Linked DNA regions of Homo sapiens. The protein of the gene in region 1 purifies or fractionates together with the protein of each later gene. This does not show direct contact. Each region holds a gene or a part of one and is shown on either strand. Other genes may lie near its edges.

Region 1 (3,655 bases):
TGAGAAACAATGTTTCAATACTTATTGACCAATTGTTACTTACTTACTTTCTTTCTTTTTTTGAGACAGAGTTTTGCTCTGTCACCCAGGCTGGAGTGCAATGGCAGGATCTCAGCTCATTGCAACCTCCACCTCCCGGGTTCAAGTGATCCTCTCCCCTCAGTCTCCTGAGTAGCTGGGATTACAGAAACCCACCATCATGCCCGGCTAATTTTTGTATTTTTGTAGAGATGGGGTTTCACCATGTTGGCCAGGCCAGTCTTGAACTCCTGCCCTCAGGTGATCCACCTGCCTCAGCTTCCCAAAGCGCTGGGATTACAGGTGTGAGCCACTGTACCTGGCCAACCAATTGTTACTTTCATATGAATCAAACCTAGGATAATAATACCTAAGATAATAAGGATTCAAACCTAATAAGGAATAAAACCTAAGATAATAAAAAAGTCCTTTCCCATTTCACGTCTGGAAATTTTAAAAATGACAACCAACCCCACCTACTAAATCATAATAACTCTTTACCTAGGAAGAATATACTTTTATAATGACTGCTTCTGCAGGATTATGATTGTAGGTCATGCATAATCAACTGATTTACAAAAAGTATGCCCAAATGAGGTTTAAGATTTACGGCCAGGCGCGGTGGCTCACGCCTGTAATCCTAGCACTTTGGGAGGCCGAGGCAGGCAGAGCATGAGGTCAGGAGATTGAGACCATCCTGGCTAACATGGTGAAACTCTGTCTCTACTAAAAATACAAAAAATTAGCAGGGTGTGGTGGCACTCGCCTGTAATCCCAGCTACTCGGGAGGCTGAGGCAGGAGAATCGGTTGAACCCGGGAGGCAGAGGTTGCAGTAAGCCGAGATTGCGCCACTACACTCCAGCCTGGGCAACAGAGTGAGACTCCATCTCAAAAAACAAACAAAAAAACCCAAAACAAACAAACAAAAAATTCACCAGGCATGGTGGCGAGCTACTCAGGAGGCTGAGGGAGGAGAATCACTTGAACCCAGGAGGCGGATGTTGCGGTGAGCAGAGATTGCACCACTGCACTCCAGCCTGGGTGACAGAGCGCGACTCCAACTCAAAAAAAAAAAAAAAAAGAGAAAGGAAAAAAGATTTCCACGGAATCCAGCATTAACTGGTAGAACAAAAATGAAGAGCTGGAAAATTTGAAAAATATACCACTTGTGAAATTTATATATACATACACACACACATATATAAAATATAAACTTAGGGATGTCAAAGGAACCCTTAATTATTAGTCAAAAAATGAAACTTCATTCATTCAACACTTGCTATGCACCTGTATTAGGTTCTGGCAATACAATGGTGAACAAGATAGAGCCAGTCTCAGCCTTCACAGATTCAAGAGCATAGCAGGAAACAGCAATAAGCAATTCTAGTACCACGTGGTAAGTGCTATAAAATGGAAAAGTCCAGGGTGTTATAAAATCACATAGTGGTGTGCTTAGGTAGAGAGAAGTTTCAGAAAAGATGAAATGACCTCTGTATTGTGATAAGGAGACTAAGAATCCATGAGGCTGGTATCAGGTTTTTTTTTTTTTTTTTTTAAATCAGGAAAATGGAGTACCTCAGAAGCAGCAGGAAAAGTTATGACATTTAGAGCACAATATGAAATACTGCCAAGGATTAAGATTGAAAAGTGTTAACTAAGCTTAGAGGGAATGTCATTGGTGTCCCTGATTGATTTTTTAAAAATGACTCAAAACAGATCATTTGGGGGAGAGAATGACTTCATTTCAAACAAGATGACCAATAACAACAGTTTATGCAGTCCTCGACCCTTTACTAAAATGTGTAGGTACATCTTCCCTTTCCTACTGTAGTAGGCTGGCTTAGATTATTGGTTCCTAACCATTTCATGTGGGCTAAACTCATTTCATGGGCTAAACATATTTAATGCTAAATATGAACACAAGAATGATGCATTTTTTATCATCAGATTAAATAACAATTGGACAAAAAAGTTACAATGAAGTCAATAATGCTTTTAAATAAGTGCATTTTTCTAGAAAATCACAGGATGTTTGAAAAAGAAGTATCTGGGACATTGGTACAGCCAGGATACCATGCTTGGAATATATGTGTGGTGGTCCCTCGTGATGACTCAAGCCCACAGATTGAGAAGCACTATGGATAATATGATCTTCTAAAAAGCCTTGCAATTTAAAATTTTTTTTTAATTCTTCAAGTTTAAAAAAATTACTGAAGCAAAATGGCACATCATGGTAGATTTTATAATAGTTCAAAATGGAATATGATCTAATACTTTAAGCACCTCAGTCTTAGACACTATCAACTGTGACTAAATGCTTTTCTTCAGTGATACCCCAATATTCCCATTAATTAAAACAACTATGAATATCCTTTGCACTTCCTTTACAAGTTTTTGCTATCCCAGAAAAAAGGTAATTGTGCACACTAATTGTAAAGGAAAATCTCCAACCCAATAGACAGAAGTCCAGTAATTCTATCAGATCATTTTACATTAAGGTAAACATAAGCCAAAAGACAAAAATACAGATTTTCCATTCTATTTTCTGATATCAAACCCTAAACAGACAATATTTGTCTATTTATTCATTCCTTTAAAAACTGTAGCTATTGCTCAGGTGGAGAAAGGACAGTTAGGGCATCAGGATTCTGCCAGGTTTCCATCAGTGAAAGCAAATGCTTCTGGTTGCGAAATCCACCGAGGATGCCAATTTAGAGGTGCTATTCAAATGTACAGCAGTTTATCCAACCACAGATAAGAAATTACAATTACTGATCAATTAATTACATTTAGATAGTCTAATAATAACTCTAAGGACCAGACTATTAAAAGAAGACAAAAGTAGTCTTTCAATATTTACTGGTCACCAACAGTTAAGATATAAATTTCCAGTTTAAAAAAATCACAAAGACCTTCCTATTGTTGCTTTACCAAAGAACAATCTAGTAATTCAAAGATTACAGGTGTAGGCCTACATATTCCACAAGATGGACAATGGTAAGTGCAAATGTTTTGCCTTATTTTATTTGGGGCCAAAAATAAATCATTTTAAAGCAGTTTAAGTTACACAAAGAGTCCAATCTTAAATTCTAATTTTTAACAGCAGTCAGGTGAATAAAAAGTTATTTGTGGTCAGGGGCAGTGGCTCATGCCTGTAATCCCAGCACTTTGGGAGGCCAAGGCGGGTGAATCACGAGGTCAGGAGTTTGAGACCAGCCTGGCGAACATGGTGAAACCCTGTCTCTACTAAAAATACAAAAATTAGCCAGGCGTGGTGGTGCGTGCCTGTAATCCCAGCTACTTGGGAGGCTGAGGCAGGACAATCTCTTGAGCCCAGGAGGCAGAGGTTGCAGTGAGCCGAGACCTCGCCATTGCACTCCAGCCTGGGTGACAGAGTGAGACTCCGTATCAAAAAAAAAAAGTTATTTGTAAAACTAAAAAACTCTGAAATATCATGAAATTAAAAAATCATCAGTGTTGATCCAGACAACGTGGAAAAGAGGAATTAGGACATCTAAAATGTGAAAAGGAGATGGCTAGGTTTTATCAAATACCAATGGTACAGATCCCCTGGGATGAGGTGGGGTGGCTGAAACCACAATGAAATGTTAAAATCTAGTTTCAGCCGGTGAGGTG
Region 2 (3,655 bases), on another chromosome or scaffold:
ATTATTGTATTTTTAGCGGAGACAAGGTTTCACCATATTGACCAGAGTGGTCTCTAACTTGTGACCTTGTGATCTGCCCGCCTCAGCCTCCCAAAGTGCTTGGATTACAGGCGTGAGCCACTGCACCCGGCCCACTCTTACATTTGTTTTATATATGTCCAGTGTTTTTAGATGTACTTCATGGGAGGAATAAGGAAAAATAAGTCTCCATCTTTCCGCAAGCAGAAAGCCAAGAATCATCTTTTATTCTCAAATTGCATATGTGTAGGCCTATTTTTAAAGGAGAAGTAAGTCTTGCTTTACAACATAAAACAGTTACTTTGTAGTTTATGGAGTATGTTTTGTAAAGGAAAAAAAGAAACCACATCAAAAGCCTGTGAAAGCTGTCCTGATATGGCCTCAGAGAAAAAGGGAGACTCTATCTTCAGTTAAATGAAGCAAATAAAACCAGCAAAGGGTTTCCCTTCCCTCTCTTAAGAACTTCATCTGTAGAAACATTCTGATGCATTCCAGACATTCTACAAGTTCGTTACCAAAAATGCAGAGATTACAATATCACCTTTCCTTTCTCATCAAAATTATAAGTTTTGGATCACTGATTTTATCTCACTGGCTATTCCAGCCTCTCCGTAAGTTGCATGGTGTTCTCTTTGGTTTAGCTTGCTTTCTTCGCCACTTCACAAAATAGTCAATACCGCCGGCAATCTTTTTCTGCTGATCAACTACAACCAAATGTATGCATTTCCTACAATCACCTCCCTGGAACTTGGCACCAAATACAGATTTTTTCATACTGGAGTAATCTTATCATCTCTGTATTCACACCCTCCACATTTTTTCCCAGTGTCTGTATTGGTCCTATCACCACTTCCTTCCTTTCACACCACATCCTCCATGGAAACTCAGTCCTTGGCCCCCCCAAAAAAAAAAAAGCTCAAGACCAGAAGTGTTTCAGAATTCAGATGCTTTCAGATTTTGGAATATCCGCATATACATAGTAAGATATCCTAGGGATGGGACCCAAGGCTAAACTCAAAGTTCATTTATGTTTCATGTATACCTCATGCACGTAGCCTGAAGGTAATTTTTTTTTTTTTTTGAGATGACGTCTCCACTGTTGCCCAGGCTGGAGTGCAGTGGTGTTAACCTCGGTTCACTGCAACCTCCATCTCCCAGGTTCCAGCAATTCTCCTGCCTCAGCCTCCCAAGTAGCTGGAATTACAGGCACCCAACACCATGCCCAGCTAATTTTTGTATTTTTAAGAGAGACGGGGTTTCACCATGTTGGCAAGGTGGTTTCGAACTCCTGGCCTCAAGTGGTCTGCCCAGCTCGGCCTCCCAAAATGCTGGGATTACTGGCCTGAGCCACCACAGCAGGCCTCCTGAAGGTAATTTTATTTTGCCCTAGGGGATCCTGAATAAACTATGTTGCGCACCCACATTTTGACTACAACCTGTCTGTCACAAGGTAAGGTGTGGAAATTTCCACTTGTGTCATGTTATGGATTTTGAATTTTTGGATTAGGATGCTCAACCGGCGTAGCATAAATCTTATTTAAATGTTTAATCACCAGTTTAGGGGGTTTTCAGGTTGGTATCATGGGAAGAGGGACAAGGAAGTGGCAGGTGTTTGTAAAACTACTGAAATGGTATACCATGGAATCTAAAATAGACAGGAAGGGAAGTGAAAACAGAAAGAATTAATGGAGAGATACTGGAAGAAAGTTGGTGGACTGGCAGATCTACCAGAGGCTGAAGAGCTACTACAAAGAATTGCTGTAAGGCTCAAATGGATCAATAAATACAAAGAGTCACTAATCCTCATAACATCCCTATGAGACAGAGTTCCCAAATCCAATTAAGAGCCTTTCAACACAGTCATACATCACTTAAGGATGGGGACAGGTTCTGAGAGATGCATCGTTACGTGATTTCGTCACTGTGGGAACATCGCAGAGTACACTTACACAAAGCTAGGTGCACAGCCTACTCCACACCTAGGCTAGATGGCCCAGCCTGCTGCTCCTAGCCTACAACCCTGCACAGCATGTTACTGTACTGAATACTGCAGACAACTGTAACACAATGGTATCTATTTGTGTACCTAAACATATCTACACATAGAAAAGGTACAGTAAAAATAGAGTATTACAATCTTATGGGACCACCATCTTACATGAGGTCTGTTGTTGACCAAAACATCATTTGTTATGTGGCACCCGATTGTATTTAACAGACTAAACACTAATAAACTGATTATAGAACTGTAAAGAGAAAAAACAAACTTCTTCACTCCAAATATAACCTTCTTTAACCTCTATGCACTGTTTTACCTAAATACAAGCAAAGAGAAACCTGAGATTCCAAAACGTAATTATTTTCCTTCAAAATATTCACATTTACCCAATATTATTGGACAGATTACCATATTACAAAGAAGGCTTATGGAGATTAAATGTCCTTCTGGTTTTCAATAAAACATTATTTTCAAGAAACTATAAATAGTCCCCTCTAAAAATTCAATCTCTTTATCCTACCATGGATTTAACAGAATAAACGCTCCTTCTGAACTCCTGACTCATTTAGTCTGTCCAGTTCACCTGCCCTTAGTATATGTTGCCGTGTACGTAATACACCCCACTGCTTGTAAGCAGTCAGAACAACAGGCACACAGCTGTGATGCAGCACAGTGCTCTACACACAGCAGGCACTGGCCAAACATTCGACTAATTAATGAAACCCATAAACACACTGTGTTAGCAAGCTGAATTCCTCATCTTTAGAAATGCTGTAATATTGGGCCAGGCATGATGGCTCATGCCCGTAATCCCAGCCTTTTGGGAGGCCCAGGCAGGCGGATCACCTGAGGTCAGGAGTTTAAGACCAGCCTGGCCAACATGGTGAAGTCCCGTCTCTACTAAAATACAAAAATCAGCTGGGCGTGATGGTACACGCCTCCCATCTACCCTGGAGGCTGAGGCACGAGAATTGCTCCACCCTGGGAGGTGGAGGCAGTGGTGAGCTGAGATCATGCCGCTGCACTCCAGCCTGCGTGACAGAAATGCTGTAATATTAAACAGCATCAATGAACACTTAGCTTTCTGCTCTTTCTCAAAAGATTCTTTTATATATATATTTTTTGAGACAGAGTCTCGCTCTGTCGCCCAGGTTGGAGTGCAGTGGCGCGATCTCGACCCACTGCAACCTCCACCTCCCGGGTTCAACCAATTCTCTGCCTCAGCCTCCTGAGTAGTTGGGGTTACAAGCACCCACCACCACGCCTGGCTAATTTTTTGTATTTTCAGTAGATACGGGGTTTCACCATCCTGGCCAGGCTGGTCTTGAACTCCTGACCTCATGATTCACCTGACCCAGCCTCCCAAAGTGCTGGGATTACAGGCATGAGCCACTGCGCCTGGCCAGATTCTTTTCAATATTTCCAATATTAATTAATTTGTAGCTATAGAAATTATCATTCTCCTAAGTGTGTATAATTTGAGGAAGGCAGATAACATAACCAAAGTAGCTTGAAACAGCAATACGACAAATTCTTTTCTTTTTGACACAGAATCTCGCTCTGTCTCCCCAGGCTGGAGGGCAGTGGCGTGATCTCGGCTAACCGCAACTTCTGCCTCCTGAGTTCAAGTGATTCTCC

The links. The genes of interacting proteins can lie anywhere in the genome.
Region 2: the proteins of TOMM70 (region 1) and WDR37 purify together in Homo sapiens (co-immunoprecipitation; one large-scale study listed by IntAct). This does not show direct contact.

What each region holds. Positions count from the first base shown.
Region 1 is NC_000003.12:100,394,460-100,398,114, forward strand, and holds part of TOMM70 (mitochondrial import receptor subunit TOM70), read right to left. Parts: intron 1-3,655. UniProt on the Homo sapiens protein: Acts as a receptor of the preprotein translocase complex of the outer mitochondrial membrane (TOM complex). Recognizes and mediates the translocation of mitochondrial preproteins from the cytosol into the mitochondria in a chaperone dependent manner.
Region 2 is NC_000010.11:1,059,283-1,062,937, reverse strand, and holds part of WDR37 (WD repeat-containing protein 37), read right to left. Parts: intron 1-3,655. UniProt on the Homo sapiens protein: Required for normal ER Ca2+ handling in lymphocytes. Together with PACS1, it plays an essential role in stabilizing peripheral lymphocyte populations.